Regions from separate parts of the Homo sapiens genome. Here all the other regions are linked to region 1. The links come from fine-mapping of genetic effects on gene expression. A gene starts in region 1. Each other region holds a variant in brackets. All regions are shown on one strand. Distances are between the middles of the regions. Region 1 holds the start of RAD51 (RAD51 recombinase). Region 2 overlaps EXD1 (exonuclease 3'-5' domain containing 1). Region 3 overlaps INAFM2 (InaF motif containing 2).

Evidence for each region. PIP is the estimated chance that this variant, and not a neighbour inherited with it, causes the effect.
Region 2: its variant is fine-mapped to the expression of RAD51 in lymphoblastoid cells (GTEx, PIP above 0.99).
Region 3: its variant is fine-mapped to the expression of RAD51 in whole blood (TOPMed, PIP above 0.99).

The regions. Positions count from the first base shown.
Region 1 is chr15:40,693,674-40,696,518 of GRCh38, reverse strand. It overlaps RAD51 (RAD51 recombinase), which reads right to left and starts at 1,345. Exons shown (of 10, transcript NM_002875.5): 1 at 1,094-1,345. RAD51-AS1 (RAD51 antisense RNA 1) reads left to right here and starts at 1,414. Exons shown (of 2, transcript NR_040058.1): 1 at 1,414-1,507; 2 at 1,724-2,785. RefSeq lists enhancers at 1-500, 501-1,098, 1,136-1,195, 1,666-1,815, 1,696-2,293 and 1 more.
Region 2 is chr15:41,206,105-41,208,604 of GRCh38, reverse strand. All of the region lies in intron 7 of EXD1 (exonuclease 3'-5' domain containing 1), which reads left to right. Among named protein-coding and RNA genes, the nearest start is that of EXD1, 23 kb to the left of the region's middle. The variant C/A (reference allele first, on the strand shown) is at 1,503.
Region 3 is chr15:40,324,525-40,327,196 of GRCh38, reverse strand. It overlaps INAFM2 (InaF motif containing 2), which reads right to left. Exons shown (of 1, transcript NM_001301268.2): 1 at 482-2,672. Among named protein-coding and RNA genes, the nearest start is that of INAFM2, 2.2 kb to the right of the region's middle. The variant C/A (reference allele first, on the strand shown) is at 1,356.

The DNA of each region.
Region 1 (2,845 bases):
CAGCTCACTGCAGCTTATACCTCCCAGGCTAGATCCTCCCTTCTCAGCCTCCTGAATAGCTGGGCCTACAGGTGCACGCCACCATGCCTAGCTAATTTTTCCTATTTGTAGAGATGCGGGTCTCACTATCTTGACCAGGCTGTTCTCGAACTCTTGGGCTCAATCGTCCTCCCGCCTCCACTTCCCAAAGTGCTGGGACTACAGACGTGAGACACGACGCCCGGCCAGTATATTTTGTAATAATTCACGGAGTTGTATACAGTTGTGAATGTGAATTTTTCTACATGTATATTACATTGCGCTTTAGAAGTTAAAAACAAACAAACAAACAAAAAAACAGGGGCCAGGCGCTGTGGCTCACGGCTGTAATCCCAGCACTTTGGGAGGCAGAGGCGGGTGGATAACCTGAGGTCAGAAGTTCGAGACCAGCCTGACCAACATGGTGAAACCCCGTCTCTACTAAAAATACAAAAATCAGCCTGGCGGCGTGGTGGTGGGGGCCTGTAATCCCAGCTCCTCGGGAGGCTGAGGTAGGAGAATCGCTTGAATCCGGGAGGCGGAGGTTGCAGTGAGCCGAGATCGCGCCACTACACTCCAGCCTGGGCGGAAGAGCGAGACTCCATCTCAAAAAAAAAGTTTTAAGAAAACCAAACCTCACTTCAGATCATTCTCTAGGCATCATGTGAATGGTTTTCCGCATTAGATGATGAAAACACTGTTTTGGCAATCGGAGATTGGTACTTTCTAAGCACGGTGTAATGGAAAGACAGATCAGGAATCCGGAAGCCCTGGCTGTGATATTAAACAGCTGTGGCTACACCGCTCTGATCTCGGACTTCTCGCTCGAACCCATAAAATAGGTGTTGCCTATAAAGGCTCTAATGTTTCTCCCCTAGTTCTAAAGACTGAGGTCCACTTGTGTTTTCGCCCCAGCAGCTGAGGGTCGGTCGGGCGCGGACACGCCCTGCCACGTCCGGGTTTCACACTGCGCGCGGAGGCCCCAACTGCCGCTGAGCACTGGACCGGCCAGGACGCAGGTGGGCGAGGACGAGCCGCGGCTCTGGAGGGCCCAGCCTGCGCCTCACACACTCACCTCGGTCCGCAGCGCTCCTCTCTCCAGCAGGCCCCGCGCTCCGACTTCACCCCGCGGGCGTGGCACGCGCCCGACCCGCACGGCCCCCAACGCCCCTGGCTTACGCTCCACTTCTCTACTCGCTTGCCCCAGCCTTCTGCGCACAACCCAGATGAGTTGCAGTTCCCAGCTGCACGCCTCGGGAAGCGCCGCACTCTCCTTAGGGCTCGGTCTCTGGCCGCTGCGCGCGGTCCGCCAGCGGCTTTCAGAATTCCCGCCAAACCCTCTCGCCCAGGGTCACGCCCGCGTCGACGTAACGTATCCCCGCCTCCCGGATCCGCCTTCTCCCCGCTTCCGCCCTGCGCGCTAACCCAAGACGGGAGCTCGAGAGCTTGATCCTGCGCGAGTTTACAGACTGCCCTCTTCCCTTTTTGCGTAAGGACTAATTCAAACTTTATGCCGGGGGCGGTGGCTCACGCGTGTAGTCCCAGCTGCTCGGGAGGCCGAGGCGAGAGTATCGTCTGAGCCTAGGAGTTCGAGGCTAACCACGGCAACGCCCCTACTCCTACCCCAGTCCCTCGCGGGTGGGGCGAGGGATTTCAGGGGGCGGTGGGGGAAGACTTAACCGAGTTGCCGTCTTCTGTTTACCAGATCGAAGACCACGACTCCCAAGAGGTAATGCGTCGGCCCGGGACTACATCTCCCGGCATGCATCGCCGGCGGGTCCGCGAGTTCTCACCATCGCAGCTGGACTATTAGCGGGGGCCCTAGCGCTCTTGTGGTTTGTTTCGGCAGTATCTGAATGTCAGCTTTTGGCACTTCTGGTCGCTCTGAGCCTCCTACTCGCATTCCTGGAGCAAGGTGCTTTCCAGGCCTCATGGAGGTGGAGGAGCTGAGGAAGCTCGAGAAGATGGATAGAAGTGGGAAATGGAGCTAGCGTACGGGAGAGGGAAATGGCTGGAATATTCGTCAATCTGTGGTGCTTTACTGGAGATTTGCAGGAGTTCAGAGGAAGGGGGCATTGAATTTCATAACCTAAACCGTATCGTGGTTTACCAGAAAGTTTTGACCCGTGATTCCGGTTTTAAAGGCTGAGTAGGGCCGGGCGCGGTGGTTCACGCCAGTAATCCCAGCAGTTTAGGAGGCCAAGGCAGGCGGATCACCTGAGGTCAGGGGTTGGAGATAAACCTGGCCAACGTGGTGAAACCTCGTCTTTAGTAAAAAATACAAAAATTAGCCAGGTTTTGTGGCACATGCCTGTAATCCTAGCTACTCGAAAGGCTGAGGCATGAGAATCGCTTGAACTCAGGAGGAGGTTGCAGCCAACCGAGATCTCGCCGCTGTACTCCAGCCTGGGCGACAGAGCGAGACTGTGTCAAAACAACACCACAAGCTAGCTGAGTAGGGATTCTTGGGCGAAGTGGAAGACATTATAAGCAAATAGGGTAGTATGGGCATGGAAACGAACTACATGATTAAAGATTAGTATTATCTGGCGAGGGAGGAAAAGTGCCAGAGCAAGTGCCGAAACTGGAAGGTTACATTTAGTTCAGGATATGAAGATCATATAAGGCCTGCACGGTGGCTCACACCTGTAATCCCAGCACTTTGGGAAGCCAAGGTGGGGGAGGATCGCTTGAGCTCAGGAGTTGGAGACCAGCCTGGGCAACATAGTGGGACCCCATATCTCAAAAAAAAAAAAAAAAAAAATAAGCTGGGCGTGGTGGCTTGTGCCTGTGGTCTCAGCTATCCCGGAGGCTGAGGTGGGAGGAC
Region 2 (2,500 bases), 510 kb before region 1:
AATTTTGTGTTTTTAGTAGAGACGGGGTTTCACCATGTTGGCCAGGCTGGTCACAAACTCCTGATCTCAAGTGATCCACCCACCTCGGCCTCCCAAAGTACTAGGATTACAGACGTGAGCCACCACCCCTGGCCAATATTTTTTAAAAGTTTGTAGTTAGCCTTGAAGAATAGCTAGAGGATGGATAGCTTTTGGGTCCCTCTTCCTTTACTTTTTTTTTTTTTTTTTTTTTTTTCAGAGATGAGTTCTCCCTATATTGTCCAGGCTGGTCTCAAACTCCTGGTCTCAAGCAATCCTTCTGAGTCAGCCTAACCGCAAAGTGCTGGGGTTACAGGCATGAGCCACTGCAGCTAGCCAAGCTTAGCTTTTAGATGACTAGGTTTGAATTAGCAGCACAAATACAAATTACTTAAAACAACCCTAAACTTCCATCTACCAAAACAAAAGAGAGTAGACTTCCTGGTAACACAGGTCTGGGCAGTTCTAGGTTATTTCCTAAATTGTCCCCTTTGGTTTTCTGGGTATCAGAGGAACATGCAGTTGTCTACAGCTGTCCTTTCTTTTTGTTTTCTCTCTTTCTTTTTTTTTTTTTTTGAGGCAGGGTCTCGCTCTGTTGCATGGGCTGGAGTGCAGTGACACAATCTTGGCTCACTACAACCGCCGCCTCCCAGGTTCAAGCAATTCTTATGCCTCAGCCTCCTGAGTAGCTGGGATTACAGGCATGAGCCAACATGCCTGGCTAATTTTTGTCTTTTTAGTAGAGATGGGGTTTCACCATGTTGGCCAGGCTTGTCTCGAATTCCTGGCCTCAGGTGATCTGCCCACCTCAACCTCCCAAAGTGCTGGGATCTGGACTACAGCTGTCCTTTCTGCAACTGGAAGCAAATTAATGGACAGGTTTTCCCCAGCCAGATCCTTGGGCTTGTGTGTTTAATTTTTTAACTAAAAGCATCACGTGCACTTGTATTAAAAGCAAAAGAAAAAAATCAAATTTAAGAGAAAAAAAAACCCTCCACTCCACTTCAGAGGCACTACGTTTATTTTTTTTATTATTTTTTTTTTGAGATGAAATTTTGCTCTTGTCGCCTGGAGGCTGGAGTGTAGTGTCACGATCTCGGCTCACCACAACCTCCACCTCCCGGGTTCAAGAAATTCTCCTGCCTCAGCCTCTCCCGAGTAGCCGAGATTACAGGCATGTGCCACCACTCCCAGCTAATGTATTTTTAGTAGAGACAGGGTTTCTCCATTTTGGTCAGGCTGGTCTCGAACTCCCGACCTCAGGTGATCCACCCGCCTTGGCCTCCCATAGTGCTGGGATTACAGGCATGAGCCACCACACCCTGCCAGAGGCACTACTTTTTTTTGAGACGGAGTTTCACTCTGTCGCCCAGGCTAGAGTGCAATGGCACAATCTCAGCTCACTGCAACCTCTGCCTCCTAGGTTCAAGCGATTCTCCTGCCTCAGCCTCCCGAGTAGCTGGGACTACAGGCTCCCGCCACCA[C/A]GCTCGGGTAATTTTTGTATTTTTAGTAGAGACGGGGTTTCACCACGTTGGCCAGGCTGGTCTCGAACTCCTTACCTCGTGATCTGCCCGCCTCGGCCTCCCAAAGTGCTGGGTGTGAGCCACCACACCTGGCGCAGAGGCACTACTTAAAAAAAAAAAAAAAAAAAAAAAAAGAGTTGAATAGGGCAGGCACAGTGGCTCATGCCTGTAATCCCAGCACTTTGGGAGGCTACGGTGGGCAGATCACAAGGTCAGGGGTTTGAGACTAGCCTGGCCAACGTGGTGAAACCCCGCCTCTACTAAAAATACAAAAATTAGCCAGGCGTGGTGGCGCATGCCTATAATCCTAGCTACTAATGGTGCTGAGGCAGGCGGATCACTTGGACCTGGGAGGAGGAGGTTTCAGTGAGCCGAGATTGTGCCACTGCACTCCAACCTGGGCAACAAAGCGAGACTCCTTCTCAAAAAAAAAAAAAAAAAAAAAGAATTGAATAACAGGATTGTTATATTTGTGCAGTACTTTACAGTTTACAAAATACTTTGACAAACATTAGGGGAGTCAACTACTTTTAACACATTGAAATGTAGTTTCTGCTATTTTCCTGTTTCTTTTTTTTTTTTTTTTTTTCGAGACAGGGTCTCTCTGTTGCCCAGGCTGGAGTGCAGTGGTGCAATCTCTTGGCTCACTGTACTGCATCTCTGCCTCTCAGGTTCAAGGTATTCTCCTGCCTCAGCCTCCCAAGTAGCTGGAATTACAGGCACTCACCTCTACGCCTGGCTAATTATTGTATTTTTAGTAGAGACAGGATTTTACCATGTTGGCCAGGCTGGTCTTGAACTTCTAACCTCAAGTGATCTGCCTGCCTTGGCTTCCCAAAGTGCTGGGATTACAGGCGTGAGCCACCACCCCTGGCCCGGATTTTCCTGTTTCTAATAACATGCTTATTGCTTTCTCTTGATTTATCAGTTTTACACATAATCTATTCAATTTTATTGTG
Region 3 (2,672 bases), 370 kb after region 1:
CACCACAGATGTACACTTGCCTTTCTGGTGTTAGCACTTCTTGAGTTATCTAGAGGCCAATGGTTGAAAGGTGAGGACAGTGATGCTATCAGGCAGCTTATCCTCACCTCAGTGCTTAGCCAGCTAAATGTTTGCAGTAAATCTTAATATTCATGCTTACTGGTCCCTTAGCTTTGTCAGCTAGGCATCTGCTCTGGTAAAGCACAACTTTTTCTCAGCCTGTTTAAGGTTGGCAAAAGGTGGCTGAGCTAGAGATCACTGTTCTTCCACCCCGGGATTGCTTCCCGACTAAGATGGATTCTGCCGCCCTTCGCTAATCAATTCATTCAAGCCATCAGGCACTGAGAACAGCAGGGCAATTGCTTTTTCCTCCTCAACCTATTCATCACCATCCATCCATCACACCTCAGACCACTTACTCTTCCAACCTCTACTCCGTCCCCACGAAGCACAGTAAGAGAAATGATCAACTTACACAGGCTTAGGCAGAGTTCTTAGGATGTATTTTTGTTCACCTGAAAAATAAAACTTTTTAAAAATATACAGGACTTTTTGAGTACAGGTATATCTTAAATGGCTGAATTATAAATAATGTCTCTGGTCATGTTCACAGCTAGGGCTGGAGCAAATGTCCCAATTCCAGTGAAGGCTTTGGAGAGTCAGGAGGCCAGCAGCTGGACCTATGAGTGGCCTCTCTAGACTCTCTGATCCATCCCAAAGAGGATTTAAACAGTCCAGAAAGCAGGGATCAGGAAGAGGACAGGGAAGTGGACTCCCAGATGTTCTACAAGTTCAAAGGATTCTTGGAATAAGAGATCAATTTACAAATTATTAAAATATAGGACTAAAAATTCACACAGTAAATATAAATTACAGGCTATTATTGAAGTTGTAAAGTGGCATTTTATGTTTCTTCCCCATCTCACACCAAAAATGTAAAGGCCTCATAGGCTTCCCAATGACTGAAGTCCTAGTCAGCTGCTAAGAAATCTGCTCTAGCCAAGAGACCCTGGAGGTGTTACCAGCCTGCTGGTAGGCTGTGACAGCTCAGTTGCTATTATCGTGCCCACAACAGGACATGGCTTAAAGCAAGGCTGTTGTCCTGTAAACTTGGATCAGAGCTAACTAGAGTATAGGCCAGAAAACTGGAGAGACAAACTGTTTCAGGACTCAGGTGGGTAAGTTGTCTTTTAAAAAAAAAAATAGTGCCTCATTTCCCAAAATGGAAACACTAAGGGATTTGATATCTCATCACTACCCACACTCAATTGCCTAAAAGCAAATGGCAGAAGGAAATGGAATCCAAATTGAGGAAGTCTAGTTCTTGCTACCCCAGAGCTACATGTATGTCATTT[C/A]TCTTGATGTTTCTCATCTCCTTTATACAATTACAGGCTGCATTTAAGTAGGGCTTATCGGGAAAAGTAAAGACAGCCAATTCAACCTTCCCTCGGCTGGTCTATTAGCTGGTTCTCAAAGCACAATCCTGAGTGTGAAGCCCACCTTCCAGCCTTTCTGATTCTGTAGAATAACTCAAAACCAGAGGATGTGTAATCAAAGCTCTGGTGTTACAACAGATTTCATCCCAAATCGCCGGGCTTTGTCACTACAGGCTCAGGAAAGAGGGAAGGCAAAAGTGATTGCCGGAACAAGACAACATTTTGAGGAGCAGGAAAAAAAAAAAGATAAAAACACTTGCCACTCTACTTACAAAAGCTTGCTCTTCCTAAAAGAATTCTGTGAGGGGAAGGCCAGGATTGAAGCACAGCAGCATTGCTCTTTCCCTTCCTTCCTCCCTGGCCCATATCCAGATACTGAGGGCTGCAACAAGAAGCCTCTTTGGTGGGGGCACTAGGATGGAAAGAAGAGGGGATGAGTACATTCCCCACCCTCCCTAAATTGTTTCTACTTCTCCTAAGGCTTTCCACAGCCATGTCAACAGTCTAAGAATGATTATACTCTTTTGTGAAAGAACGTCATAAACTTATATTTCAGAAACAGGAGGGGAACAGGAGAAAGTGAGTGATTTAAGAAGCCGTGTTTGTGCCCTTCTGGCCAGGTGTACTTTTTGGGGGACAGCAAATAGCCCTTGCTTGACCCCTTCAGTCAGTAGCTACCCAGGGTGTGGGAGGATATACATAGAATTCTATGTGATTATAGCTTCTAGTGCATATGTCAACAACTATATACAGGGATCTAGAAATTTAATGCATCTCTGGCCACTGCAACTAGGTTGACGTACCTGAGCTCCACTACTTTTGGTGCCCTCCTCCTTTCGAGAGCTTCAGCTTACTTAAAAAGAGCCCCTACAGCTCCATCCTTCCCCTGAGTCTTGGGGGAAAGCCCCAGTCACCCCTGCATGTAGGATACACCAGAGCGAGCGGCGCAGAAGGGTTTGGTGCCGGGATCTCCCCACCCCTCCCCCCATCCCCCTACGGCTCAGGGCCCTGGTGCAGCACGGTCCTGGGCAGCAAACCCCCAGCCCCCCGGCGAATCGTGGTCCCTTGGCTGAAGATCTGGCTGCGGGCCTCCCGCTCCGGGGCCAGCCGGCGATGGTGGGAGTGTGAGGGGCGTTCACTCTCGTGGGGGTCACTCCCGCGGGCTCTCCACCCCATCCTGCTGCGAAGTCCTGCCTCTGGGCTTGGGGAGAATGGTTCCCGGCGGCCCCCAGCGCG